Linked DNA regions of Homo sapiens. The protein of the gene in region 1 interacts with the protein of each later gene in a pairwise test. Each region holds a gene or a part of one and is shown on either strand. Other genes may lie near its edges. The genes, in order: MFSD6, SYNDIG1, C19orf18 and SLC60A2.

Region 1 (8,730 bases):
AATACTGAACAGGGAGAAGTTGGAAGCATTCCCTCTGAAAATTGGAACAAGACAAGGATGCCCACTCTCACCACTTCTATTCAACATAGTACTGGAAGTCCTAGCCAGAGCAGTCAGACAAGAGAAGGAAATAAAGGGCATCCAAATAGGTAAAGAGGAAGTCAAACTGTCGCTGTTTGCTGATGATAAGATTGTATACCTAGAAAACCCTAAAGACTCCTCCTAAAAGCTCTTAGAACTGATAAATGAATTCAGCAAAGTTTCAGGATACAAAATTAATGTACACAAATCAGTAGCTCTGCTGTACACCAACAGTGACCAAGATGAGAATCAAATCAAGAACCCAACACCTTTTATAATAGCTGCAAAAAATAAAGTATTTAGGAATACACCTAACCAAGGAGCTGAAAGACCTCTACAAGGAAAACTACAAAACACTGCTGAAAGAAATCATACATGACATACACAAATGGAAACATATCCCATGCTCATGGATGGGTAGAATCAATATTGTGAAAATGACCATACTGCTAAAAGCAATCTACAAATTCAATGCAATTCCCATCAAATACCACCATCATTCTTCACAGAACTAGAAAAAACAATCCTAAATTTCATATGGAGCCAAAAAAGAGCCTGCATAGCCAAAGTGAGACTAAGCAAAAAGAACAAATCTGGAGGCATCACACTACCTGATTTCAAACTATACTATAAGGCCATAGTCACCAAAACAGCATGGTACTGGTATAAAAACTGGCCCATGGACCAATGAAACAGAATAGAAAACCCATAAATAAAGCCAAATACAGCCAACTGATATTTGACAAAGCAAACAGAAACATAAAGGGGGAAAGGATACTCTATTCAACAAATGGTGCTGGGATAATTGGCAAGCCACATGTAGGAGAATGAAACTGGATCCTCATTTCTCACCGTATAAAAAAATCAACTCAAGATGGATCAAGGACTTAAATCTAAGACCTGAAACTTAAAATTCTAGAAGATAACATCAGAAAAACCCTTCTAGACATTGGCTTAGGCAGAGATTTCGTGACCAAGAACCCAAAAGCAAATGCAACAAAAACAAAGATAAATAGATGGGACTTAATTAAACTAAAGAGCTTTTGCACAGCAAAAGGAACAGTCAGCAGAGTAAACAGACAACCCACAGAGTGGGAGAAAATCTTCAGTCTATATATCCGACAAAGGACTAATATCCAGAATCTATGACGAACTCAAACAAATTAGCAAGAAAAAAAAAAACACCAAAGAGTGGACTAAGGACATGCATAAACAATTCTCAAGCAAAGATACACAAATGGCCAACAAACATGAAACAATGGTCAACATCACTAGTGATCAGGGAAATGCAAATCAAAACCACAATGTGATACCACCTTACTCCCACAAGAATGGCCATTATCAAATAATCAAAAAATAATTGATGTTGGTGTGGATGTAGTGAAAAGGAAACACTTCTACACTGCTGGTAGGAATGTAAGCTGTACAAACACTATGGAAAACAGTGTGGAGATTTCTTAAGAACTAAAAGTAGAACTACCATTTGATCCAGCAATCCCACTACTGGGTATCTACCCAGAGGAAAAGAAGTCATTATATGAAAAAGATACTTGTACATGCATGTTTATAGCATCACAATTGCAAAAATGTGGAACCAGCCCAAATGCCCATCAATCAATGAGTGGATAAAGAAACTGTAGTGTGTGTATGTATGTATATGTGTGTATATATATGTATATGTGTATATGTGTGTGTATGTGTGTGTGTATATACACACACACACATATACATACATACACAATGGAATACTACTCAGCCATAAAAAGGAATGAATTAATGGCATTCACAGCAACCTGGATGGAACTGGAGACCATATTCTAAGTGAAGCAACTCAAGAATGGAAAACCAAACATCGTATATTCTCACTCATAAGTGGGAGCTAGGCTATGAGGATGCAAAGGCATAAGAATGATATGATGGACTTTGGGGACTCAGGGGAAAGGGTGGGAAAGGGGTGAGGGATACAAGACTACAAATTGGGTTCATTGTATACTGCTTGGGTGATGGTTGCACCAAAATCTCACAAATCACCATTAGAGAACTTACGTAACCAAATACCACCTGTTCCCCAAAAACCTGTGGGAATAAAACATTTTTTAAAAAATAACTATCACGTGGCTTTTCCTGTTTTGACGTCTTTTTAATCATAATCCTGTAAATGGGCCTAAGGCAACACTCATTATAACCTATGCCCCACTGATGTTCTAAGTTAAATGAAAAATATATTTCTTAAATATATATGCTAATGTCTATTAAGGCCTATAAAGAGACCCAAAGATAAACATCATGTTCATTGATTCAGTACTTACACCAAGTAATGAAGTCATTGGTAACCAGCAATTTATTAATATTATCAAGCACTCTGGAATGGGTATATGGGATTCTTGGTTTATTTATTTATTTTTACCTTTGTTCAAATATGTAGAAAATGCTGAAAAAATAGTTTAAACATTCTTTTCTCTCCAGACAAGACAATGTTGGCAGAAAGAATTCCTGTTCCCTCCAGTCCCGTTCCTATAGCAACCATCGACTTGGTACAGCAACAGACAGAAGATGTCATGCCACGCATTGAGCCCAGACTTCCACCCAAGAAAACTAAGCACCAGGAAGAACAGGAAGATGTGAACAAACCAGCCTGGGGAGTCAGCTCTTCTCCCTGGGTGACCTTTGTCTATGCACTCTACCAAATTAAAGAGATGATGCAACTCACAAGAGACAACCGTGCTTCTGAGATACAGCCTTTACAGGTACAGTTCCTTTGCTGGGCTAGCAATATTACCTGTCACTCAAGATACCTTAACTGGGCTCAGTTTTAATTACTCACTTTTCATTCAACAAGATTTATTGAAAGTCTGGTGGGGGAAATAGACATGCAAACAATTTCAGTACTCTGTGAGCACTGAGTTAAAGAGGGTGTATACAAGGTCCCATAGAGAGAATATTCTGCCTTATGGAGTTCAGGAAAACTTCAGAGGTTATGATTCTTTCACTTCTTGAAAGAAATAAAATAAATTAATCCATTCTTTCATTGTATATTTGTTTTAAATTTCAGTATTGATGGTTGTCTCTGTAATTCCAAAATTCTAGTGGGGGCATTATATTATAGGACCACAATAAATATTTGTTGAATTAATTAATCTGAGCCACTGTATGGGTCTGATAGGACACCTAACTCAGTGGAATTATGGTTATGCAGGTGGCCTCACCTGAAAAATAAGTCTAAAAGTGTGATTTTTCTTGTCCCCAGAGGAGTGATCTTTCCTGAGTAAAGTTAAAGCATGTTGATAAAAGTGTGGATAATTGTACAGGTGTATCCCGACTTTGGAAAATGAGTGTAACTTCTATAAACAATTTAGCCAAAGAAATAGGCTCAGTTCCCCCATCTCATGATAATCACTCCCTTTTATTTGATAAGTCACGTCAGCTTTGTCTGGAGTAGCTTCAGAGGACACATAAAAATAAAGGGGAAAGATTTAAAAATAAGGGTCATTTGAGTAATTCCCCTTTCAGAAAATTTGTTGAACTGTTAATTAATCTCACTTTGTAAGCTAACATAAAATCTTTGTGAAATTTTAACCAAATCTGGTTCTTTACTGATAACCATATGCATGCTAGTCCATGCATGATCCTATTTATTAATTTATCAAGATAATAAACTCACATCATTACTCTGCTCAGTCAAGAACCAGATATTGTGGTGGGAGATGCATATGGAGGATTTTAATACCTTAAAGCAAGAAGACTAAACAGGAGAAAGGATGATTTTAATATCTGCTGCTTGAGTAGCAATATTTTCATTACTTTGTGTACTCATCCTCATTTTCACAGAAGCCACATAAAATTTTTGATGTGGCGCTTTTTTTCTGGTATGTTAGGATTAATAAATTTTTTTCTGGGCTGGGCATGGTGGCTTATGCCTGTAATCCAAGCACTTTGGGAGGCCGAGGTGGGTGGATCACGAGGTCAGGAGTTCAAGACCAGCCTGGCCAAGATGGTGAAACCCCGTCTCTACTAAAAATATAAAAATTAGCTGGGCATGGTGGCGGGTGCCTGTAATCCCAGCTACTATGGAAGGCTGAGGCAGAGAATTGCTTGAACCCAGCAGGAGGAGGTTGCAGTGAGCCAAGGTCACGCCACTGCACTCCGGCCTAGGCGACAGAGTGAGACTCCGTCTCAAAATTATAATAACAATAATAAATAAATAAATAAAATGTTTCTGGTATGTTAGGATTAATAAAAACTGGCAGGTATGCTGTAGTTATTCTTAGAAGTCATTATACTAAGTTTCTTTTTCTTTCATTGTAGAATCACAGAAATGAACATTTTTATTTGGGTGTTCAGCCAAAAAGTGATGGGTACTAATTTGGGGGAGAATCCATTTAAATTTTTTTTTATTTGTACAACCAATATGGCATTTATGGAAATTGCTGCTGGTGATGTTCTACTCATGGTTATTTACAGTTGGTTACACAAGTGCTTGTTTACATTCACTTCTTTATGTGGATGTTCTGTCTTATCTAACTTTTGGTGCACATTTTGAAATACCAAATATATATCAGGACTCTTAATTACAGGACATTCTTTCCCAGCTCTGCCTCCAAGGATAAGAACCCCTTATTTACCTCCTGTTAGACAAAGTGTCTTCTGGCTCTTGGATTCTGTGGTCTTAGCAAGCGGCCTGAGTTTCAGTTATTCCATAGTGCTTGCCCAGCGACTTGCCACATGGCTTGGGGGGCTCAGTAAATATTTGCTGATGTAAACTGTTTACCAAGTACTAACAGACATTTTGGTAGTAATGTTCCTTTTTCCACAAGACACGTCTGCTTATAGTGTTTGTGTTTTTCATGCGGCTCTGGCAGTTGCACATAGGAAAGGAGATGAAAGGTAAGACATTCTATCCTTATTCCTCTATTACTTGGTCCCTGAAATGGGCACTTCCGGATGATCTCCCCATGTTTCCTGTCTTACTTGAAAGCATATATAAAAAGTTGGATTTATTTGCTATCACTGATCATGGGGCATCTCCTGTTTTTTACCTCCAGGGGACCAATGAGAATAGGGAAAATTCTCCTGCTGGTAGAGCCCAGCCTGTCCCATGTGAGACTCACTCTGACCCATCTAGAAACCAGCCATCCCCTGACGCAGCAGCATCTCAGACGCAGACCAGCCCCGCTCACCCCAGTGTGGACCCGTGCACAGAGGAGAGTGAAGAGCAGCAGGCTCAGCTGGCCGCGGGAGGACACTGAGGGCATCCTGCTCATCTCACACCCTGCATGGAATCAGGCTCCTCAGCCAGGACACAGGGTGAGGCCCCCCAGCCAGGATATGCCTCCCCTGGAGGAGCACAGCACTGCATATGCTTCTAAATATCTAAACTCATTAACATGGAAACACACACACAGGAGCTACAGTACATATTGGCAGGAAAAGGTAAACTTTCGTAATCTCATTGGAATTACAACAGGGAAATGGAGTTCAATGAGGACTTTCAGTTCTTTGCTTGGTTAGGTTAAGGATGATAGAATTTCTCTGCCAGTGCAGTAAGAGTTGAAACCGGCAGTTACACTAAGTAAGTGGAGGGAATGAAAGTGTTTCGAGGTGAATGTGGATATAATTTCCCTCTTCTGATTATTTATTCTTATTTGGTTCCTAACACAAACTGGGAAGAGATAGAATTCATCTATACTTTCTTTTTTCTTGGAGAGAACCGTTTAAAAAATTACAAGATATATTTAAAAAGTAACCAGATAAAAGTAGCACATGTGCTTTTGTTAAAAATAAAGTTAAAAGTTAAAGTTAAAAAATGAAGTTAAAAGTTTCATCAGAAACTTTACATATCTTTAGCAAATATATTTTTATATGTGTATGGCATATAATGGAAATAATTCTTTGAGCAACAGAAGCTATTATTAACTACTGCAAGCTAAGCCGAGCTTAAAAATGCCTTTTGTTTTAAATGGGCTTTGAGAAAAAAAACAGAAACAAGCGATTATTTCAAATCAACCAACCAACTCAGTATCCTGTGTTTTGATAGACAAGAGTTTACTAAATATATTGATACTGTAAATAGCCTCTCTCGCTATTTACTATCTTATAGTAATTCAGGCTCTAATTAGCTGAGGGAATGAAACACACAAAAATCACTGAATTCCTAAGAGTTCCTTAAATAAGCAGTACTAGTTACAAATCACAGTATAAGATTTAAGTGCCTGGGGGAAGGATACAATTTTTAGAAATTACATATTGGGTCAGTTTTGTTTTGTTTTTGGTGAGGAAAAGGTGGTAAATAGGAAACCATGAATGGGAAGGATGGCAATAAGTAGCAACTATACTTTCCAATGACTAAAGAAAGAAAATCTCAGTATATTCGTTCTCATGAAGACACAGTCAGACACTGGACAATGTAATGTATGCAACTGCAAACGTTACAACTGCAGCCAGAACAATGGCTGGGTGGATCGCACGTAAAGCTTGCCACTAAAAATCAAAGCAGAGGTTAACAGGAAACCTGGGGGGAGTGTGGAAAAGGGAAAACTGTTTTAGCTGAATAAAGGTGAATTATATAATTTATAATAGCTGTGGATGAGCACAGGAGAGAGAGGAAAGAAAAGAACAGTCGAAATGAGCAACTCACCTTACCCTCTGACCCTGATTAGACAGGATCAATTGTAAAGTGAGGGCTTCTCCATGACACCATAGTTCTGCCCAATACTGCATTTGGGATAAGAAATTCTACACTTGGATGTCTCGCTTCACAATAAAACACAGCTTAAAAATAAAATAACTGAAAGAAATAGAATTCAGCAAATAGTTATTTTTTGCACTTGAACTGAAACGTACTGTACTGTAAATTATGACTCATTTTAAGTGACCTTTAAAATCAGATGTATTTATTATGCTTGTGTAATTATAGAAATAAAGAAATGGGTGACAGGCTTAACCTCACCTATGAATGTACAGTATGTGGATTTGTGAAACTGACTGTAGGAAGTCAAAAACTTGTACTGTATCTTGTGTTTACAGTTCTGATTTATTCCTTTGAAAAGCCTGCTGTTTTGGAAATGCACAGTTGACATGTTGAAATAAAAATGAATACCATTTTTAAATGTTTCTTAAATGATAAAGATGTGACCAAACAAAAGTCCTATACTCTAATGAATGAGACCAAATTCAACATGCCTTTGTTATGGAACATTTACTGTGACAGCAGAATCGATAATGCAGTCATTTCCAGCCTTGTGAGCTGACACCTTCATGGGTTTGTGGACTTTGTGACTTTTTCTTCCTGTCCCCAAAGTGCCATATGCTACCTTAAAAAATATTAAAGTGAATTCAAATTACATTTTGATTTGAGATTTTGTAACCCCTCTTGAGATCCCTCAACACACACAGGGGTGTCACAGAGCCCAGGCTGGTAATCACTGCCTTAATGACTTACTTCCTACTCTTTCTCCTATGGTTGTAGAAACAGTAAATTACCGAGTGCTGAGCTTGTGTGGATCCAAAGTGGTTAACTGCTAATTATTGAACTATTCCTCAAGTTTTAGGAATAGATTATAATACATACATTGTCCAGCAGGCAGTAAACCTCATGAAAAGTGTTAAGGAATTCACAGGAAGAGCAACCCTGCTTTACTGGCTTATTAATCCTGCCATGGGTCACATGAAGTGGATAGCTGGCTAATAGCTTCCCTCTAATTGGCAATTCCTTCCAGTACTGCTGAGGTACTGAGACCATTACTTAGGCAATATTCCTCTCTGCCAATTTGGAGTTCAGCAGGGAATCTAGGAAAAGGGAACCACATCCGTGGATATTGGGTGCTTGTAGTGTGCTGATGAGATTATCATTTTGCCCTTAACAAAAACTGGAGGTGTTCCTATCACTATCCCCATTTTAAACAAGAGAATTCTGAAGCTAACAGTTTAAGTTATGAGATCAAGGTCACAAAGCCAGGATTCAAACTCAAATCTTCCTAATGTCAAAGCCCTGGTCCGCTTAGCACCTTACCCCACCCCAGGAGGCAGGGAGGCCATTCCCTGCATCTGTTATGGCAGAGGAAGCCATAAAGCAGCCCAGCCTGAACCATTACCATACATGCCTGATATGTGTATGTGTGTGGTTGTATTTCCATTTAGGATTTCTAGATATTCCTAGATTCCTAGAAATGCTTCAAATTCCTGATGCTTTGTGAAATGTAGGTACACCAGACCCTTTACACTCTGCAGGTGAGTTGGCTGGACTGATAACTGCACAGGAAACCCAGAGGTTGGTAGGGACTCTGGCCAGGGCCATGGAAATCAGGAAGGGAAAGCAGACACACCCACAGCTCTGTACTGTCCGGTAGGACTTACTGGGAAGATGGGAAGTTCTCTATTTACACTGTCCAGGATGGTAACCATAAGCCATATGTGGCTATTAAACAACTGACATGTGGCTAATTTTCTGGGGAATTAGGTTTCTAATTAATTTTAAATAGCCACACGTGGCTCAAGGCTACCATACTGGACAGCACGGGTATACAGGAAGAGATCCTTTCGGGAGATCTCTGGGCCTGTTTCCTCAGCTTCAGTGTGAGAGGTTAGAGCTTAAGGTTATGTTGATTCTATGAAAATGAAGGTATGCTTTGACAGTGACTGTAGGGAAGAAAG
Region 2 (7,218 bases), on another chromosome or scaffold:
GGATAGGACCCAAGACCATGTCTGGTCCCTGGAGAACACCTAGGCCTTTGTTCCCTGCCCAGCCAGGGGCTGGTCATCTCCACAGAGCAGCACCCTCCTGGCCCCACCCCTGAGGGGGCCGGTCAGCCGCTTGCCTTTCAGAGTCTCCAGGTAGGAACCGGCTGGTCACCCGCCCGCAGTGCTGGACATGCATGGAGCCAGCAGGGTCCCATGGCAGCTGCACCCCCACAGCCTGAGTGAAAAGCAAATGCCTTCCTTCTGTGGATGGGACCCAGGCTCAGCACACCGTCAGTCCTTCAAAATGCTTCTCAGCCTCCAAACCATTTGTGGAGGCACAGGCCTTGAGGCATCTAAATTTGTTCTGCTCTCTTGTTTAGAAAATAGGCAAAGGCTGCTGGGGGTGGGGGCGGGGAGGTCCCCGTCACCATCCTAGGGTGTGTCTCTTGTGATGTGGAGCCTGGGATGGAGCTTCCAGCTGGACCTTCTGTTACAGAGCAAGTGAGCAGAAGAAAGAAGGAGGGAGGGAGGAAAGGGGAGGGAGGGAAGAGAGGGGGAGGAAGGAGGGAGAGAGGAGGGAGGGAAAACCGAGGGAAGAGGGAGGGAGGAAAGAGGGAGGAGGTAGGAAAGAAGGAGGAGTTAGGAAGGAGGGAGGAAGGAAGGAGGAAAGAGGGAGGAAGTAGGAAGGAGGGAGGGAAGAGGGAGGAAGAAGGGAGGGAGGGAAGAGGGAGGAAGGAGGGAGGGAGGAAAAAAGGAGGAAGGAGGGAGGGAGGAAAAAAGAGAGGAAGGAGGGAGGGAGGAGGGAGATGGGAATAAAAAGTAAGGAAGGGAGGAGGGAGGGAGGAGGGAGGGAGGGACTGGCCTTCAGCATGCCAGCATATGCCAAGATACATTATTGGATAAACCAGGGACCTCAGGTGGGCATGAGAAGGGGAGACACGAGGGGACTGGGCAAGGGCAGCCTGGCCACTCCCCCAACTAGAGCAAGACCTGGATCCACCAGGAGCGTCAGAAGGAAGCAGGGCCTAGAACCCACTCCCAGACCTCTCTGCCACCTTCACAAGAAGCCACTCCCTTCAGATAGAACCATTCCCCAAAATGTGACCAATGGGCAGGGTGGGGGGTTCCACCAGAGAGAATTGCTGGTGGGTTTCAGCATTAAACACTACCACCCATGGAATGCAAATTGACTTTGTCCCTCCACAAACTGGTCATTTCTCATCACGAAGCCATGACCAGCATGACCTTTACATGTGGATCAACAGCTCTCGGTCCTTTGACAGCCAGTTCCTTTGACTTGGCCACTTGATAGTGACCATTCAACCTAAGGAGGTGTGACCCAGCGGTGGTACGAGGTGGCTGGACCTCAGTTCTAACGGTGACAACTTCAGCTAAAGCACGTTTGTTCTGGCTGTCCGTCCTCTGCTTGTGTAACTTTTATTTCCTCAGTGTGAACAGCGCTGCACTTGAGGGACAGGAAGGGGGTGCTTCCATAGCTGTCATTGCTATGGCGCAAGTTTACTTTTACTCTTCAATTTAAAAATCGGGTCTTCTACATATCTTTGCAACTAGGGAAGAGAAAGCAGGTCTTTTAATTCCAGAACCGCAGTGCACAAATCATGTTCCAGTGTGGGCTGTGCAGGAGCTCAGTGCCTGGTGGGTTTCAGGTTGCAGGACATCTCCCTTGGGGGCTACGTCTGATGCCCTGCAGCCAGCCCTGCCGATGGAGCCCAGCTGCTTCCTGCGTTCTCAATGATGAGTCCTTGTGCCCTGGGCTGTTAAGGCTGTGCCTCTGCTGTGAGCTGAAACGCTTTCTCTGAAGAGCCCTTACAGTGCAGAAATAGTGTCTTTGGGTCCTGCTGAGCCCCTACCCCCAGCCCACCGCTGGCACAAGGTGCAGGCACTGGGCACTGCTTGGGGCTTCGCCAGTCACCTGCACTTTCTAACCGCCTGCACTTATTTTCCAATGAAAGGCCAATAAAGTCACAAACTTCACTTGCAACCTGTTGGCAAAAGACAGGGAAGGAAAACCAGCCACAAGAAATAACAATCTTGACAAACTTTTTTGCACCTACACACAAAGCCTTGCCTTCAGCTCAGAGACTCTTGGACTCAAGACAGTTTGCCCTGCCCTCATGCACACCAAAAATCTTGTCAAAGAGCCAGGAGCTTTCGTCCAGCAGCTGTCAGGATGGAAACGTGTCTTCCCATTTGCACCCTGCCAAAGGAATGAGCAAGCTGTTTCACAGCCACAGTTATCCATTTTCTGAGACAAAAGGTTCATATCAGGTAAATCACCTTCATTAGACCACGTTGTGTGTTTTGTGTATGTAAATGACGTCTCTGCCTTGCAGGAGTGGGCACTGCAGAAACTCTGGCTTCTATGACACGCAGATGCCGAGTGACGTTGCTGAAGGCAGCCTGCTTGCTAAGGCTGCATCTGTTTGCTGTTTCTGACATATCTCCAGCGATCAGGCCCCTAACACACCACATTCCCTAGGTTTCTTGTTAGAGCCAAACATATAAACCGGCGTATCAAGGTCCCCCAGCGTGGAGAATGAGAATAAAGAGCAAATGTGATTCTCAAGCAGACACACCAGCTTGAGCATGAGAGCTCTGGTGCGTCTATATGCAGAACCTGCAGAGTTGGGCCAGAACTGAGGTCAAGAGTCAGCCCCGTGCCACTGCCTTCCTCCTCAACACCACCAGAGAGACTGGAACTGTGCCCCAGTTAGAGAAGTATCGCATTCCTCCTGTCCCCCCAGAGCCCAGCCCAGGCCCCAGGGAGACCACAACACACAAGAGAGACATGGGCTCTGCCTTGGGGAGCTTACAAGTGAGCAGGAAGGCAACTATTCCGCAAGTGGGTACTCAGATGTGTGAGCCCTCATGAGCTCGGGAAGCCCGGCATGGGTGTTCCCACAGGGGTCAGGGAATGAATGCTGCTGGCAGGTGCCCAGTCAGCTGTAGCAGCTCCACCTTCCTCTCTGCACCCCTTTGCATAGCCCTGGGGATGGCACTAAGGCTGGTGATCATGGCGGGGACACAAAGCCATGACCCTAATGAGCAATGACTCTTTCAGTTAGCGCTAAGGAAAGGCAATTACAGGAAATTGTGTTCGAAGATGTGGGCGTGTGTGGGAGCACTGCTGCATGAAACAGACTTGGCTCACCACGACTTCATTCATTCATTCATTTATTCATTCATTGTCCTAGGAGGCTTCCCATTTTGCATCCCTTTATCTCTGCTCCCTCCAGAATTGTCCATAGTGAGCTCTGAAGCTCAGTTCCAAGACAAAAAGTTGGGGAGGAAAAAAATAAAAACTAGCTTTTAAGATCCGAAAGTTAGAGGAGCGAGAAGGAAGCCAAGCAGCGGCAGGCATCCCTTCCCCACACGACACAGACTTCCAGAGCTCAGAGACCATGGAAGATGCAGGTTCACGTCATGAGCCATCTCTGAGTGTGAGCCTTTCTGGTCCACTGCAGAGGTGTTGGTGTGTTTTAGCTGGTGTGTTTGAGTGAATGACATGCCGACTCCCATACTCACCTATAAAACCTAGTAATGTCACTGACCTTAGGTGGAAATGGGACCCGGTAGAAATCTGGCTTTCTGGAGACGGCCATGAGAACGAGCTAGGACATTCTGCCAGGGTAGTCCTGACCACAGGGGGCCCGCGGGTGGCTTGGGAGTCAACCCTCCTCAGCATCACGTGGGCTCCCGTGGCTCAGTGCTTTGGTAGCATCTCACCCCATCTGCCAAATGAGCCATTTTACTCCGGTGATCCCTCCATGGTGGCCTCCAAAACCTCCATGTTTCCATCTCCTCGTGACCCCAAGAATCATGAATTTGATTACACCAACACCTGGTCATGTCATTGAGCACTCAGGAATATAGGTGTTAGTTTTGTATCAAATGATTTTATTGATGGATGAATTTTACTAACGCCAACCATGTCCAGGGTGGGGACGGTCAGGAAGTGAATGACTCATGGCCACAGCAGGTGAGGCAGCTGAGGAGGAAGGTTTCAGGTGTCCTCCAGTGGTTTTCATGATCTTATGCCGGAGTTTCTCTCGGGGAAATGGGAACTGTCATTGCCTTCCGCACACCTCCAGTGGGTAGCAGAGATTCAATAAGATAGATAGAAATATGCTTTAGAAAATTACGAGTTATTCAAATAAACAAGCACACCATTCTTGGGTAGAAAGAGCAGCACTAGAGGAGTCTTATCTAGCCCATCCCTCAGTACTCGTGCTGGAGATCCCAGACCCCACACTGATGGAACTCAGTTGGGCTACTTCCAGCCTTCTCTTATTCCCTTGGGGCCAAGTAGAAAAGAAGTCTGTCTTCCCTGCGGTGTGGGGGAGCAGCAGCAGGCCCCAGCCCCACATTTGTTTCTTGCAGTTAAAGAACTGCCCTGGTCATAGCAGGGGTGAGCACAGTTTCCCCCTCAGCCTTCTCTGCATCAACAATGCCTTTTTCTGAATCAGGAGCCGTAGATGAGCCCTCCACTCACTGCTTGTTCCGACTTGCTTACAATGACTTCCTTTTTCTTCTCCAACTCTGCAGACCAACAAAGCCGTGGCCAAGGGGGACTTGCACCAGGCCAGCACCAGCTCCCGGCGGGCCCTATTCCTGGCAGTGCTGTCCATCACCATTGGGACTGGCGTCTATGTGGGCGTGGCCGTGGCCCTCATCGCCTACCTCTCCAAGAACAACCACCTGTGAGCTTCCTGCGAATGGAGGGGGAGCACCCGGGGCCAGGTCTGTGTGGACGTGGAGGAAGCAGGCATACCGCATGATGCTGTACAGTACAAATGATTGCCAAATGATGCCACGAAGCCCTGGGATTTCCTACCCATGGATTTATTTTGTTTTTATCCTTTAATTTCATGTTCACAGCACTGTGTAGAGCACCAGACAGACGGGCACTGCTAATCCTTCCAAAGGAAAGCTCCAAAGATCCCAGCCCGCAAGGCTGTCTCTGGATGGATTCTGGTGGATGAATGGCAACGCGGCTCTCTGCAGCCTGCCAGTGCCCAGAGTGCCACCGCATTAGCAATATACAAACAGTCCAAAAAAGTGTTTATTTTTTATGGAATACGGTGCAATAGGCAGAGGACAAGGGACACATCACTCTTCTGTCTGTGGCCCTGCTGGAGTCCTTTGTGCCCCCCGGAGTCCACACGCCTTCCCTGCAAGACGAGAATGGGGCTGGGAAGAAAGAGGCAACACCACGGCTGGCAGGAGCCCCGCTGCACTGCTCTGCAGACCCATTGGCCTGACCCTGAGAAGCAGAGCCAGCAAAGCCCGGGACCTGCCCCTCTTTCTTTCCCTTCACACCACCCCAGCCTCAGGATGTCAAGCCACCTCCGGAACGTGTCTACACTCCACAGCTACCCCGCAGCAATACGCACTCTTGGGACCTCGCTGATCTAGGATGGGGAGGCAGGCCACCGCCCCTCCCAAGACTCCTCAAGAAAGAGCCCCGCGGTTGCTCCGGAAACTCGAGGCACTGCAGCTATGGGCACTGCCTCAGCCTAAAGACACAGGGGCGCCTCCCAATCACCGCGCTGGCGGATGCTCACCCCGTCATAAGCAGAAACTAGTGATCCTGGAAATGAGATGGGCCTTACTCTGTCGACTAAATGAATAGCTATTTTCTTGTCATTTTTTAAAGTGCAACTCTTGCTTCATGCTGCTTAAGTTACCAGATGAATGCTGAGAAATAAGTAATCACAGACATTTTAATACCATTTCATTGCTGTTTTACGAGTGTTCATTACTTAACAAAAAATTATCTTTTAGCTTTTTCGCTTAAGACTTTTCTTTCTGATGAATAGCTGTCGTTGGGTTTCATTTATACTTTCCCCTTGTGGTTTAAGGAACTGCAGAGCCACCCAGGCCTCCACTGCTGAAATAGTAGGGGGGTCTCAAGGAGAACCAAAGTCCCTGCCGCTTCAATTTCCACCAGTAAATATGATCGTCCTAATCCCCTCAGTGGACACAGAGACCCCCTCTCCAGGACGGTGGCTCCACCGGCAGCACTTCGCAAATTCCTGAGGCCTGGGTCAGCCCCAGGCTGACTTGATGGGTCAGGATGTGGCCTTGTAACTGCAACGTGAAGCCAAGGTTGAGAACCACTGCCCTGGACTAAGGTCTCTGTGTTTGATCCTTCTGCCTGAAACTCTCCTCCTTGACCTTGAACATTTAATATTCTGAAAATTATTAGCACTGTCTTCTCGGGTCAAATTTGAGATCCATCTAGCATTTGTCTCTACTGGGTGGTTCACAAACACTGTAGGATGTTAACCCTAAGAAGTAGATAAGGAAGCCAGCCAACACCCCTGTAGGAGTTAGAGTCACTGGCCATGGAGGGCATAGGTTTAGGTTCAAACCAACCTGGATTTGAATCCAGCTGTGCTACTTTCTAGCTGTGTGATCTTGGGTAAAGGTTTACACCTCAGTAGGGCACAGTGGCTCACACCTGTAATCCCAGCACTTTCGGATGCCGAGGAGGGTGGATCACGAGGTCAGGAATTTGAAACCAGCCTGACCAGCATGGTGAAATCCCTGTCTCTACTAAATATGCAACAAATTAGCCAGGCATGGTGGTGGGCACCTGTAATCCCAGCTACTCGGGAGGCTGAGGCAGGAGTATCACTTGAACCCAGGAGGCGGAGGTTATAGTGAGCCGAGATTGTGGCACTGCACTCCAGCCTGGGCCAGACAGAGCAAGACTCCATCAAAAAAAAAAAAAAAAAAAAAAAGGTCTACACCTCTCTGAGCTTCGTCTCTAGGAGAGGATAATCAATAAGGCCCATTTTGAGCTTCGTCTCTTGGAGAGGCTAATCAATAAGGCCCATTTTGTGGGGTTGCTGGGGAAGGCACGAGGCACAGACCATCACGCCTGGCAGGAGCAGGTGGTCATGGTTACTATCATGTCCTTGGCTGGCTGTCCCATGGCTGGTCAATGTCCCTCCATCTCTCAGGGTTCATTTATCACAAGTCATTGTGTCAAATGGGCTTCTTTGCACTTGTCCTGAAATGATCCACTTTAAGTTCAAAGGCTCCCCAAAGGTGCATACCTTTGGATGTGGTAAAGAAGTAGAACCTGTCTGTATATCCACACCCATCATTTCTGTCTATACTGTCACAGTCACCCTAAGCCAGGCCCTCAGTGCCAGGTACTTTACCTCTGCTAGATCAACTGCCCATCTTATT
Region 3 (9,141 bases), on another chromosome or scaffold:
AGTTGGAAAGATATATATGGGATGATCCTTGGTTCTCCAGGTTAGAAGTTTTGGGATGTAAAGACCAATTAGAAATGTACCACATGAACCAGAGTACAGCTATGAGGCAGATGGTCTTCATGCAAAAGCAAGTACTATCCCAGAGAAGCTCTGAATTCTGTGGACTTGGGGCAGAGTTTAGCCAGAACTTAAACTTTGTTCCATCTCAGAGAGTTTCTCAGATAGAACATTTCTATAAGCCTGATACACATGCTCAAAGTTGGAGATGTGACTCAGCCATAATGTATGCAGATAAGGTTACCTGTGAAAATAATGATTATGACAAAACTGTTTATCAGTCCATTCAACCTATTTACCCTGCAAGAATACAAACTGGAGATAATCTTTTCAAATGTACTGATGCTGTTAAATCTTTCAATCATATAATACATTTTGGTGATCATAAAGGAATTCACACAGGAGAAAAACTCTATGAATATAAGGAATGCCATCAAATCTTTAACCAGAGCCCATCATTTAATGAACACCCAAGGCTTCATGTTGGAGAAAACCAGTATAATTACAAAGAATATGAGAATATCTTTTATTTCTCATCCTTTATGGAACATCAAAAAATTGGTACTGTAGAGAAAGCGTATAAATACAATGAATGGGAGAAAGTCTTTGGGTATGACTCTTTCCTTACTCAACATACAAGCACTTACACTGCAGAGAAACCCTATGACTACAATGAATGTGGGACGTCTTTCATCTGGAGCTCTTACCTTATTCAACATAAGAAAACTCATACTGGAGAAAAACCCTATGAATGTGATAAATGTGGAAAAGTTTTTAGGAATCGCTCAGCCCTTACGAAACATGAACGGACTCACACTGGAATAAAACCCTATGAATGTAATAAATGTGGAAAAGCCTTCAGCTGGAATTCTCATCTTATTGTACATAAGAGAATTCATACAGGAGAAAAACCTTATGTTTGTAATGAGTGTGGGAAATCTTTCAACTGGAACTCTCATCTTATTGGACATCAGAGGACTCATACAGGAGAGAAACCTTTTGAATGTACTGAATGTGGGAAATCATTCAGCTGGAGCTCCCATCTTATTGCCCATATGAGAATGCATACTGGAGAGAAACCCTTTAAATGTGATGAATGTGAAAAAGCTTTTAGGGACTACTCAGCCCTTAGTAAACATGAAAGAACTCATTCTGGAGCAAAACCATATAAATGTACTGAATGTGGAAAATCCTTCAGCTGGAGCTCCCATCTTATTGCCCATCAGAGAACTCACACGGGAGAGAAACCATATAACTGTCAGGAATGTGGCAAAGCATTCAGAGAACGCTCAGCCCTCACTAAACATGAGATAATTCATTCTGGAATTAAGCCCTATGAATGTAATAAATGTGGAAAATCCTGTAGCCAGATGGCTCACCTTGTTAGACATCAAAGGACTCATACTGGAGAAAAACCCTATGAATGCAATAAATGTGGAAAATCCTTCAGTCAGAGCTGTCACCTTGTTGCTCATCGGAGAATTCACACTGGTGAGAAACCCTATAAATGTAATCAGTGTGAAAGATCCTTTAACTGTAGTTCTCACCTCATTGCACACCGGAGAACTCATACTGGAGAGAAACCATACAGGTGTAATGAATGTGGGAAAGCATTTAATGAGAGTTCATCCCTTATTGTACACCTAAGAAACCATACTGGAGAAAAGCCCTACAAATGTAATCATTGTGAAAAAGCATTTTGTAAGAATTCTTCCCTTATTATTCATCAGAGAATGCATAGTGGAGAGAAACGCTTTATATGCAGTGAATGTGGAAAAGCCTTTAGTGGTCACTCAGCCCTACTTCAACACCAGAGAAATCACAGTGAAGAGAAACTGAATTGAATTTATGCGAGTTTTTCGTTTCTTGTACATTTGACAACACATTGAGGAAAACCCTATAAACATAATCAAGAGGGGACATTTTTCATTAAGAGTTCAGTAAGACTTCTCCCACATTATTTACTAGAAAATATCATCTTAGAAGAAACCCCATGAAGGAAAAGAATAGGGAAAAGCTTTCAGCAGTTATTTAGCCCTTACTCAAAATCAGATAATTAACAATGAAGGAAACTCTAAACTCCCCTTATGGTCTACCAGTAATTCATACTTGAGGACCATGACTGTGGGGAATGAGGCATCTTTTAGCAAGAGCTCTCACCAATTGTAGATTGGTGTGAATTGCTAAGGGAAAAACCTTATGCAGAGAAAAGTTTTTGACTGGAAATACACTGTTTTGCATCAAGCTGGAGTACTGGATGGAAAACTCTACAATAACATTTTGTGCATAATTGTAGAAATACAGATTTTGTTGTTATAAGGGGAGGGTCTGGGTGCCCAGGAGTAGAATATGAAGTGCTAAATCTGAATGTAAGAAAAATAATAGTATTGAATGGGGTATTTACTGTTGATTAACCTCCTTAGAGAAAATTAATGAATGAGATGACTAACGGTAGAAAAGTTATTGCCTAGGAGTGTGAGACTGATGTTGCTGGACAGAAAGTGATCCTTAGCCCAGTGTGTCAGCGTCCATTGTTACTCATCACTGCATTGTTGGGCAATTAGTTTGTAATTTGTTTTAGGCAATCACTATAAATTATAATTATGGACACTGCATCAGTATACATAACATGAAGGAATAAAAAGGATACAGAATTGTATATACATACTTACTGTAACACATCTAAAAAAATGTATATGGGTAAGGACCTGAAAGATCCATGGAAAAGTTAACCCAGTTGAGATTTTTAAAAAGTTTTACAAATACATATAACACTTATGTGCTGGGCTTTCTTTTAAATGCTTTCCAAGTGTTAACTTGTTTAGTCCCCTTTACTCTGAGATAGGTACTGTTACCCCAGTTTTACAAATGGCTAAGCTGAAGCAGAGATGTTGAAGGATCCTACCTAAGGGGCACAACTAGTAAGGGAGTAGAGCTGAGATTGGCTCCAGAGTTCTTGTTTTCAGCCACCATTTTATGCTGCCTCTCCAGTGATTTTTTTTCCCATTTTCTTCAGTGTTTCTATAGCAGAGATTTGATAATAAAAAGAAAATCCTAAACAATGAGAAATAAAGTTACCTGGTTTCTCTGTCTCGAAGGATTTATAGTAACATGAGAACTAGTATCCCTTTGGAATATGAAGTCTGTGTTGGACATTCAGAATCACTGCATTTTCTGGGACCTGAGTTCCCTAGAACTTTGCTGCCTGCAACCCCAAGGATAACAGGGCAGCAGGGCCTGGAGGACTTGCTGGAGGACTGGGCAAGTCCCTTGGTGGGTTTAGAATGCCACTTACAGAGCAGAGGGCAGGGGTGTTTGTTCCTTTCCATAACTAGACACCACTGCACTTCAGAGCACCATTACCCAAGGTTTACCTTGAATTCGGTCTTTTATTTTTTTGAAATCTTCTGCAGATGAAAGGCTTACTTGAAGGAGCAGGATTCAGAAGGGAAGAGAGCTAGCCAGTCCACCTAGAGTAATGAAGTCTCAGTGTTCACAGGGGAAAAGGGGAAAGATGGATCAGAAGACTTGGGTGGCTTCTCTCCAGTTCATAAGTATTTCTAAAACTGGGGGCCAAGGATCCTTCCTGGATAGGCTTCAAGGGTATTGAGTGGAACTTGGGCTCATAAAGCTCATCTAATTTTTAAAGGGCCCATGGCTTCCCAGTGGTTGAGAAATGATGGCCTAGTGATGTCATTGGGAGGCTGTTATTTTCACCTTCTGACTCTTCTAGCTTGGGCTCACTTAGGTGTGTAACATTTGATTGTAGTCCTTTCAAGGCCTGACACATTAGTGGTCACCTGATAAATGTGGCAGGGGCAAGTTAGTTATTGATGGATTTTTTTTTTACATGATTTGTGCAAAGGCCCTTGGAGAGAATGAAGTTAGCAGTATTATCTCATCTTGGAGAAAGCAGCATAATATATCCAGAATCATACTACCAGTAGGATGTGGATATTGTATTCTAATAGCCAGAGTGAATCCAAATTATCTGATTTAGAGATTCCAAAGGATTTCATAAGTCATATGCAATATACCACAAGCATCCTGGTAACTTATAACCTTATTACTAAGATTATTATCTTGAAAAAATTTCTAGGCCGGGCACCGAGGCTCATGCCAGCATTTTGGGAGGGACAGGAGGATTGCTTGAGCTGAGGAGTTCAAGGCCAGCCTTGCAACGTAGCAAGATCCCATCTCTGTTTAAACAGATAAGAGTTTTTTTAATGTCTTAAAGGGCCTCCTGGCAGGGCACAGTGGCTCACTCCTGTCACCCCAGCACTTTGGGAGGCCAAGGTGGGTGAATCATGAGATCAGGAGTTCGAGACTGGCCTGGCCGCCAACATGGTGAAAGCCCATCTCTACTAAAAATACAAAAATTAGCTGGGTGTGGTGGCAGATGCCTGTAATCCCAGCGGTTCCAGAGGCTGAGGCAGGAGAATCGTTTGAACCCAGGAGGTGGAGGTTGCAGTGAGCCAAGATTGTGCCACTGCACTCCAGTGTGGGTGACAGGGCAAGACTCCATCTCAAAAAAAAAAAAAAAAAAAAAAAAGGGCCTCCTGTTGGTCAGGTCACATCACGAGTCAAAAGAAAGTCCCAGACTTCTGCTTCTTCCTGGAAGTATTCCCTTCCTCTCACCTATCATGCACAGCCTGGACAGTATTGATTTCAGTGGTCCCTAACATCCAGCACTCCCAGGTCCCCTCTGTCTCCCTCATACATGACATAGTTCATTGCCTTTTTTGAGCCCGTCTTCTATTCCTCCCATCTCTGAAGCCTAGGGCCCACTTTCAGTCATCAGGAGTCCCCCTTTACCTTCCTGCTGTGGGTCTCCCCTGTGCACATTGCCTCCCTTCTAAGGGTGACTGCTTTCCTTCCACTTTCTTTTCTTTCTTTCTTTGTGCAGTGGTACGATTTTGGCTCACTGCTACCTCTGCCTTCTGGGCTCAAGTGATCTTCCTGCCTCAGCCTCCCGAGTATCTGGGACTACAGGTACACGCCACCATGCCTGGCTAGTTTTTGTTTTTGTGTTTGTTGTTTTATTTTTTTGAGACAGAGTCTTGCTCTGTCGCCCAGGCTGGAGTGCAGTGGCATGATCTCAGCTCACTGCAACCTCCACCTCCTGGGTTCAAGTGATTCTCATGCCTCAGCCTCCCAAGTAGCTTGAACTACAGGTGTGCACCACCACGCCCAGCAAATTTTTGTATTTTTAGTAGAGATGGGCTTTCACTGTGTTGGCCAGGCTGGTCTTGAACTCCTGGCCTCAAGCGATCTGCCCACCTTGACCTCCTAAAGTGTTGGGATCATAGGCGTGAGCCACCGTGCCCATTCCTTTTTTCCTGAACATTTTCCAAGTGAGGTTGTTGGAAATCACGGATGGGGAACTATGCATGCGGAGGGCTGACTGTAATTGATTTCTTTCTGCCTCCTCACTAATCTGCACACTGCAGGCAGGGACCTGGTCTCATCATGCCTGCACCTCCAAGCACTGCCCTCTTACACTGTAGTCTCCCCATTGGTCAGCATGGTTCCATGAAGGAACTCCATTATCACAGCAAGGACTGACCTCACACTGGTGGCTCCAAGTCACTGCCCAAACATTCTGAAGGGAGTAGAACTTCTTGATTCCTCAGATAAATAGAGGACAGATGCTGGACTGTAGCTAAGTATTTCCTTTCATCTACGGGATAAAATACTGATAATTTGAGAGTGATGGACAAGGTTCAGAGTGGTTTCCTCATTTTGTTTTTGTTTTTAATGGAATGCCAACTTCATTTATGCTTGCCGTATGCAGATGGACTCCATCCCACTGGAAACATAACAGGCTTACCAGGTAGCTTCAACCACTGGTTTTATGTGACTCAGGGAGAATTGAAAAGCTGTTTCAGGGGAGATAAAAAGAAGGTAATTACATTTCACCGCAAAAAGTTTTCTTTTCAAGGCAGTAAACGGTCACAACCACCCAGAAACATCACCAAAGAGCCCAAAGTGTTCTTTCATAAAACCCAGTTGCCTGGGATTCAAGGGGCTGCCTCGAGATCCACGGGTGAGTCATTGAATTCCTCATTCAGTGGAGTGAGAATCGTAGCCTGGAGTCCTCTTATCTGCCATGTGAATGTGTACTGTGTGCTTGCTGGTAGAAAGGTCCATAAAATAGAGTATAATTAGATAAACATTTGCTTGGAAATTAGATCTTATGCTCTTCACTCTCTGTTAACTGCTTTCTCTTTAGGGATTGCCACTTTCTTCTCTTTTTCATTTCACTTTAATAAGCGCACACAAAAACCTTGATCCCATCCAGATTACACAGGTATGCCTGTCTGACTTGAATTTGGTGCACATTTGGCAGTAGAGCATGCAAGTCTAGACACAGAAGGTTTGTGAGTGTACAGAATTCTTTTTTTTCTTTTTTTTTTTTTTGAGACAGAGTCTTGCTCTGTCGCCCAGGCTGGAGTGCAGTGGCGCGATCTCGGCTCACTGCAAGCTCCACCTCCTGGGTTCACACCATTCTCCTGCCTCAGCCTCCCAAGTAGCTGGGACTACAGGCACCCGCCACCACGCCAAGCTAATTTTTTGTATTTTTAGTAGAGACAGGGTTTCACTGTGTTAGCCAGGATGGTCTTGATCTCCTGACCTCATGATCCGCCCGCCTCGGCCTCTCAAAGTGCTGGGATTACAGGCATGAGCCACCATGCCCAGCCGAGAATTCTTTATAAGCATTTTCTATGGTTCCCTTCTAATTTGAGTACTAGAGGATGTTTGTTTATCTTATAACAGCAAAACCAACCCCGACAATCTTTGAAGCTCAGCAACCCTTTGTGGAGATATATGATGCTTGTAAATAATCTCCATTCCATGCAAGGGAAATGCTGTCTGTGTGATACATTTGCATGTAATTTGTGTCCGAGGAAAGGACACTATTGTTGGTTCCCTGGCCTCTCTGCCTGGCTCTCTGATCCTTTTTTTTTTTTTTTTTTTTTTTTTTTTTTTTTTTTTTTTGAGACGGAGTCTCACTCTGTCACCCAGCTGGAGTGCAGTGGCGCAATCTCGGCTCACCACAACCTCCACCGCCGGGTTCAAGCAATTCTCCTGCCTCAGCCTCCTGAGTAGCTGGGACTACAGGCGCGTGCCACCATGCCCAGCTAATTTTTGTATTTTCAGTAGAGACGGGGTTTCACCATGTTGGTCAGGCTGGTCTCGAACTCCTGACCTCGTGATCTGCCTTCCTCGCTGGGATTACAGGCATGAGCCACTGTGCCCAACCCTTGCTGACCTTCTAATGAGGTCGTAGCCCCTTCAACTCTAAGTCTCTCCAGGTCCTTAATTTGGGCAGAGATTTCCCAACTTGTATGACTGCAAAAGGAGACCAGAAACCAAAAGTATCCTGTTCCTAAAGGTCATTCTTCATGACAGGAAGCACCAGGTGCAAAAAGAACAGCAGGCTCACCAGGCTTCTGCAAATTAACCCACACATTGCTGCCAGGCATTGGGAGGAATGTATTAACACATCCCATCTTAGATATTTGGAAGCTGTGTGTTCGGCGTCCTTCTCTAATGCTAAGTTATTTCCTTGTTTTCCCAAGTTCATCTTAAACCATCTTAAAGTCTCTTCTTTTTGATCCCCTTTGATGGCCTTTTAGCTGCATCCCCTACGAACCCCATGAAATTCCTGAGGAATAAAGGTAAGCCAAGGGATCTGGGAGGGCGGGTGGACCCGCAACATTCCTGAAGCTGTCGTGATGTGTGGCTCCAGAGGGTGCTGGCTGGTCACCAAGGAGCCTGCACACGTGGTGCCTTCATGTGTGTTAGACAAGGTGCCCCCTCTGGAGGGGGATGCGCAGTGACACCGCTTGGGGCAGGTGAGAAGGTGGCTCAACTCCACGGGCTGATGTTGTAGTGAGTAGAGCACAGGCTGTGTCTGAGATCTCTTTGTGGAACACACAAAATGCATGGGCACACACAGCGGCCCTGTCAGCAGCCTTTCTAGCAACTCTCCCCACTGTGGCTTGTCCTGGAACCTCCTCAACACCTCTCGCTTCAGAGTCCTCCAAAGCAGAAGGCACCTTGTGTCCTGCTGCTGCTCCCGCCCCAGAGCATCCTTCCTTCTCCTCTGCACATTTGCTAAGTGCCTGCAACAGGGCGGCTTCTGAGTCAGCTCCCCCACCACCTACCCATCTCCACTGCTTTCACATGTAGCCAGCATTTTATTTAATCACATATGCTGAGTGAGACATGCAGACACAGAAATGACTGTCATGAAGGAAGAAGCCTGATACTCACGGGTCCCTAGAAGCAGGAGTCCACACAAGGAAGCACCAGGGTCTATCAGAAGGCAAAGGGAGCCAGGAAAGTGTGAGCAAAAGCCTTTATTCTGGGCCGGGTGCGGTGGCTCATCCCTGTAATCCCAGCACTTAGGAAGGCCGAGGTGGATGAATCACTTGAGGTCACGAGTTCGAGACCAGCTTGGCTAACATGGTGAAACCCCATCTCTACTAAAAATACAAAAATTAGCCAGGAGTGGTGGTGGGCACCTGTAATCCCAGCTATTTGGGAGGCTGAGGCGGGAGAATCGCATGAACCTGGGAGGTGGAGGTTGCAGTGAGCTGAGATTGGGTCGCTGCACTCTAGCCTGGGCAACAGAGCGAGGCTGTCTTTTTTAAAAAAAACAACTTTATTCTGGTTTTTACAGGAAGGCAGGTAGGGAAGGCGGGCTTGGGATCAGCTTGAGTGATTTGGTGGCTGTGGGGCATGGGGTATGTCCCTGGTTGTCTGGGACCTGGCCCTGGGGTGGTTGGGGGCAGGGGATGGTGGCCTGGAGCATGAGGGCTCCATAGAGATTGTTGGGGTGTAGGCTTTGGGTGTGTCGGCTTGCACATGAAAGGTGCACTTGCAGGCCAGGGTTTACTATCTTCAGGAATTGGCTGGACCTGGGAGGGCAGTCTCTTCAAGGGTCAGTTAAGGCCCCAAGATGTCAAAGTATCAGGAAATACAGAAAATAAAAAACGTGATGAATACATCCATCCACGCCAAACACATTATCAATCTTCCTAAAGCTCAGCTATGACTGTTTCACCTGCCCATTGA
Region 4 (5,897 bases), on another chromosome or scaffold:
AAACAGGGTTTCACAATGTTGGTCAGGCTGGTCTTGAACTGCTGACCTTGTGATCCACCCACCTCGGCCTCCCAAAGTGCTGCGATTACAGGTGTGAGCCACTGTGCCCGGTCAGCTCAGAACAACTTGTTGAGATTATACGATGCTTTTCCAATAAAAATTATTTAATTTTGATAAAATATACTTAATGGAAAAATGTATCTTTTAACATTTTAAATTGTACAGTTCAGTGGCATTAAGTATATTCACATTGTCTTACAACCATCACTTCCACTCATCCACAGAACGTTTTTTACCTTGCAAAACTGAAACTCTGTGCTGTTAAACAGTAACTGCCATTCTACGCCCCCATCCCAGCCCTTGTCAACCACCATTCTACTTTGTCTATGAATTTGACTGCTCAGAGTACTTCATATAAGTGGGATCATACAGTTTTTGTCCTTTCATTACTAGCTTCTTTCCCTTAACATAATGTCTTCAAGGATCATCCTTGTTGTAGCATGTGTTAGAATTTCTTTCCTTTTTAAGTCTATGATACACCATTGTATATACATACTATATTTTGTTTATTCATCTGTCAGTGGACATTTGTGTTGCTTCTACATTTTGGCTGTTGTTAATACGCTGCTGTGAATGTGGGTGTACAACTGTGTCTTTGAGATCTTGTTTTCAGTTCTTTTGAGATATATACCCATAAGTGGAATTGCTGGATCTTATGGTAATTCTATTTTTAATATTTTGTTGTGTTTGTGTTTTTTGTCTTAGATTTTTTTCTTAATCAAGTTTTTCCAGAAGAGAGTAGCTTTAGGAAGAGAATAAACACATACTTTTAAGGTATTATCTCAGACTTTAGGCGCATTATGATCATATCAGTAGCACCCATGTACTGAATAAGTGAACTCAAAGAAAAGTTATGTTGGGCAACTACCTCAAAGTTTTGTTATCTCTGCTTGCAATTTTTGTTCAGTCATTGCACAAGTGCTTGAGGGCTTACTGCATGTGAGGCTCTGTAGACTAAGTATTAATGAACTTTCTTTTTTGTCCTTGCAGTAGCAGGTACAGCTTTGATCTCAGTTTTCTGCCAAATGAATGGTTCTGTGTTTTGTGCTCATTCGTTTACAGAGATCCCTCTGAACCACCTTGGAACCAGAAGGTGTGTGGTCTGAGAACGATAAATGGGCTGCTCTCTGCCTCTCTCACAGCAGTTCTGCCCCTCCTTGGGACCACTCGTTTTCTGCATTCCTGGCCCATCTTCTATATATCTCTGGTCCAGATTCCAGAGGAAACCTGTTTGACTTGAATAGATGCCATTGCCCTTATTGGGCCTTGCCTCAGGAGTTCCTCTGTGTATCTCTGGTCCAGATTCCGGAGGAAACCTGTTTGACTTGAGTAGATGCCATTGCCCTTATTGGGCCTTGCCTCAGGAGTTGCTGGTTAGCCTATGAAGGGGTTCCCTTTGGGTTGATGACATTGCTCCCATCCAGAAAGTGGCTACTTCTACCCTCCTACTCCCACCACTCTGCATGCAGGAGCTGTTATCATCAAAAGGGAATGTCCACTGTCTGCTCTGTACCAGAGAAGTGCTAGGCTTCATAAATATTGGTAATCGATACCTGAATGGGATGAAAATTGGCAGGTCCTGGGATGGATGGCCTGGTTCATCTGCATCAGAACTGGAAAAACAAAATCACACCAAATTGCAGACTTTTTTGGAAGAGCGTGTTAGACAAGGTTTGTGGATTGTTTGATTTTTACCAAGAAAGAAAGCTTTCTCCTAAGAGGGTAAGATTTCTACTTGAGTGAGCTCTAAGAGGAGTCCCAGTTTGCAAGAGATATTATTACAGTTCTCATCTGTGCGGACCAGAAAGTTTTCCAAATTCATGCATTTCAGTTATCTAACAGATATTTACTGAGCATTTACCATGTTCAGTAACCAGGGCCCTGGGAATATAATAGGAGAAGGCAGATGAGATCCTTGCCTTCACCAAGCTTATGTTTTTCTATTTTAAGTAAAATTTGCCATGACAAAATTTCTATCAGCGGAAGAGCCAGTAACTCTTATTGTAATAGGTTTTACCCAGTTTTAGAAAAGGAAAGTAGCTAAACTCTTGGTTCCTTGGTGTGTGTTTTTGTTTGTTCATTTCTAGTACTTGTCTATGTCTTTGGGGTAATTTTTGATTTAGAATTTTGTAGAAATTACTCGGCACAGTGTAGTTGAGGTGAATATAGGCAAGAAGGCTTAGGAAGCCTACAACAAAGGAATCTGACACCAACTTTTGAGATTTATTCAGTCCAGCCAAGAGAATATATTTATGGTCAAACTAGATCTTGGATTACAGCTCCAAAGACCCTTGGGCTGACAGAGCAGGTTCTCATTTCTCAGCTCTTTCCCTTATCACTTGCAGTGAACTCTGCCCCCAGGAGCAGAGTATCCAGTTCTGTGTCCAAGCACTCTATGAATCTTTACCCTTGTTGAAGAAATACTCAGAGACAGAAGCATTTAGAAAAGGAAAAGTTTACCTGCAAAGAGAGCAAGAGAATGACTGGCTTGCCTAATAAAAAACGTAAGTATTTGAAGGAAAAAATTAAAAACTGCCAAGGTTTCTGAGTTTGCATTAGACTGTTCACGGTGAAAAACAGTAACTGCCTCATGTAATTATTGTATTCATAAAGGTTATGGCAAATCTTCAGATGTAGTACAGGAAAAACCAAGGATAAAATTTCTTAGGGAGTCCAGGTTTATGGGAAACATTCAAGGTTTTATTGTTTTTTAGATCATCAACAGTTAGATGACCCTATCATTTTTGTTTTGTCTCAGGGTGCAACGTCTTTCTTTTCTGATGGTGATTGATATAGTTTGGCTGTGTCCCCACCCAAATCTCATCTTGAATTCCCATGTGTTGTTGGAGGGACCTGGTGGGAGGTAACTAAATCATGGGGGCAAGTCTTTCCCGTGCTGTTCTTGTGATAGTGAGGAAGTCTCACGAGATCTTTTGGTTATTATAAGAGGGAGTTTTCCTGCACAAGCCCTCATTTTGCCTGCTGCCATCTATATAAGATGTGATTTGCTGCTCCTTGCCTTCCGCCATGATTGTGAAGCCTCCCCAGCCATGTGGAACTGTAAGTCCAATAAACCTCTTTTGTAAATTACCTAATCTCAGGTCTGTCTTTATCAACAGCATGAAAACAGACTAATAGAATGATATAGGAAGTTCTTAGTCTTACTGAAGCAAGGGAAAGTGACATTTTGCTTCTACACCCTCCAGAATTCATAAGCTCCAGAAGGAAAGAGGACCCAAGGGAAAAACGTGATTGCAAAATGTGTTCTTGTCCTCTGCCCAAGTGATTAACCTTTGCTCCAGTGGTTTTCAAACCTGGCTGCTGTTAGAATCACCTGGCAGTGTTTAAAAATGACTGATGCCCAGCATTTTAACTTAAATACCAATTTGGTCTGGAGTGGAGCCTGAGTATGGATATTTAAAAAAGTAACTCCTCCTCCCCAATCCCCCGTAATTGTAATGTGCAGCCAAGATTGAGAACCACTGCTTTGATCAGTGCACAAAACTGGATCCTCTACTAATGACCGTGGTTTTTTCTTAGGCTTACTTACAGATTGATTAAGTTATGCCACTTTTGTAGATCCTTGAAATTCTGTGCACTTTCTTTCTTTCTTTTTTTTTTTTTTGAGACAGAGTCTCGCTCTATTGCCCAGGCTGGAGTGCAGTGGCGCTATCTCAGCTCACTGCAAACTTCACCTCCCGGGTTCACGCCATTCTCCTGAGTAGCTGGGACTACAGGCGCCCACCACTGTGCCCAGCTAATTTTTTGTATTTCTAGTAGAGACGGGGTTTCACCACGTTAGCCAGGATGGTCTTGATCTCTTGACCTCGTGATCCGCCCACCTCGGCCTCCCAAAGTGCTGAGATTACAGGCATGAGCCACCGCGCCTAGCCTGTGCACTTTCTTAAAGGAAAACTGGAGAGGAAGAGATCTCATGTTTTCTATTCACTCCACTGCTGCTTGGTCCAGTGCAGGAAATATTGCTGTTATTTGAAGTCCTTCCTAAAACAAAAGCTCAGATCTTTTGGAGGTTGCCCTTCTAGGCAGGTTTTCACCAGTCAATTTTGATTTGGGGGGCTTAACAGAGTAGGAATGATCTTGCAGGTTTATTACATCTGAATTTAAGACTACTCACCTAGGCTGGGCGTGGTGGCTCACACCTGTAATCTCAGTGCTTTGGGAGGCCAAGGCGGGAGGATACCTTGAGCCGAGGAGTTCAACACTGCAGTGAGCCATGATCACACCACTGCATGAGTGAGACTCCATCTCAAACAAAAAAAATAGACTACTCACTGTTTACATAGCTTTGTACCATATAAAAACTTGTTTGAATAAAATATTGATAACAATAGTGATGTTGGTTTAAGATTCATGTTTCAGTTGTTTCACTGATTTTTGAATTGATACATAATAGCTATGCATAATTATGGGTTCCCTGTGATAATTCGATACATGCATACAGTGTGTAATGAGCAAATCAGGGTAGTTGGGATATCCATCACCTCAAATGTTTATCATTTCTTTGTGTTGGGAACATTTCACATCTTCTCCTGTAGCTATTTTGAAATATACAATAAACTAGTGTTAACTGTAGTCACTCTACTGTGCTATCAAACACTAGAACTTATTCCTTCTGTCTAACTGTATTTTTGTATTTGCTAACCAACCTGCTGCCCTCTGCTCTGTCCCCTACCCTTCCCAGCCTCTGGTAATTATTATTCTACTCACTACCTCCATGAGATTAATTTTTTAGCTCCCACATCTAAGTGAGAACATGGAATATTTGTCTTTCTGTTAAGTGAAATAACTCCCTTAACATAGTGTCCTTCAGTTTCATCCGTGTTGCTGCAGATGATAGGATTTCATTTTATTATGGCTGAATAATATTTCATAGTGTATATACCACACTTTCTTTATCCATTCATCCGTTGAAGAACACTTAGGTTGATTCCATATGTGGTCATTGTGAATTGCTGCAATAAACATGGGAGTGCAGCTGTCTCTCTGATACACCAATCTCCTTTCCTTTGGATATACACCCAGCAGTGGAATTGCTGTATCATATGGTAGTTCTATTTTTAGTTTTTTGAGGAATCTCCATACTGTTTTATGTGGTGGCTGTACTAATTTACATTTCTCCAACAGTGTAGGAGCATTCCACTTTCTCCACATCCTGGCCAGCATCTCTTTATTTTCTGTTCTTTTGATTATAGCCATTCTAATGGGGGTGAGGTGATATCTCGTGGTTTTGATTGCATTTTACCGATGATGAGTGATGTCAGGCATTTTCTTTTTTCTTTTTTTTTTTTTGTTTTTTGTTTTATAATCAGTTTCTGTTTATCCAGAACATTTTTCATTTACATGTTGGCCACTAGTATGTCTTCTTTTGACAAATGTTTATTCAGCCGGCCGTGGTGGCTCGCGCCTGTAATCCAGGCATTTTGGGAGGCTGAGGCGGGTGTATCGCCTAAGGTCAGAGATTTGAGACCAGCCTGGCCAACGTAGTGAAACCCCATCTCTACTAAAAATAAAAAAAATCAGCTGGGTGTGGTGGTGGTCGCCTGTAATCCCAGCTACTAGGGAGGCTGAGGCAGGAGAAGTGCTTGAACCCGGGAGGCAGAGGTTGCAGTGAGCCTAGATCACGCCATTGCACTCCAGCCTGGGTAACAAGAGTGAAACTCCATCTCAAAAAAAAAAAAGATCTATTCAGATCTTTTGCTTACGTAAAAATCAGATTACTTGGTTTGTTGTTGTGTGTTTTTGCTATTGAATTGTTGAATTCCAAATGTATTCTGATTGTTAATCCCTTGTGAGATGGGTATGTTTTTTTTGTTTGC

The links.
Region 2: the proteins of MFSD6 (region 1) and SYNDIG1 interact in binary tests that used the Homo sapiens proteins (3 or more experiments, as listed by UniProt).
Region 3: the proteins of MFSD6 (region 1) and C19orf18 interact in binary tests that used the Homo sapiens proteins (3 or more experiments, as listed by UniProt).
Region 4: the proteins of MFSD6 (region 1) and SLC60A2 interact in binary tests that used the Homo sapiens proteins (3 or more experiments, as listed by UniProt).

Annotation. Positions count from the first base shown.
Region 1 is NC_000002.12:190,494,892-190,503,621, forward strand, and holds the end of MFSD6 (major facilitator superfamily domain-containing protein 6), read left to right. Parts: intron 1-2,547; coding exon 2,548-2,828; intron 2,829-4,940; coding exon of another isoform or gene 4,941-4,965; intron 4,966-5,123; coding exon 5,124-5,327; 3' UTR 5,328-7,423; downstream 7,424-8,730.
Region 2 is NC_000020.11:24,660,783-24,668,000, forward strand, and holds the end of SYNDIG1 (synapse differentiation-inducing gene protein 1), read left to right. Parts: intron 1-1,664; coding exon of another isoform or gene 1,665-1,817; exon of another isoform or gene 1,818-2,286; intron 2,287-4,563; coding exon 4,564-4,722; 3' UTR 4,723-5,834; downstream 5,835-7,218. UniProt on the Homo sapiens protein: May regulate AMPA receptor content at nascent synapses, and have a role in postsynaptic development and maturation.
Region 3 is NC_000019.10:57,971,061-57,980,201, reverse strand, and holds the start of C19orf18 (uncharacterized protein C19orf18 precursor), read left to right. Parts: upstream 1-5,667; 5' UTR 5,668-5,769; coding exon 5,770-5,890; intron 5,891-5,998; coding exon 5,999-6,103; intron 6,104-7,697; coding exon 7,698-7,739; intron 7,740-9,141. Other genes in the region: ZNF606 (zinc finger protein 606), read left to right, coding at 1-1,901.
Region 4 is NC_000006.12:111,275,595-111,281,491, forward strand, and holds the end of SLC60A2 (sodium-dependent glucose transporter 1), read left to right. Parts: 3' UTR 1-4,411; downstream 4,412-5,897. UniProt on the Homo sapiens protein: May function as a sodium-dependent glucose transporter. Potential channels for urea in the inner medulla of kidney.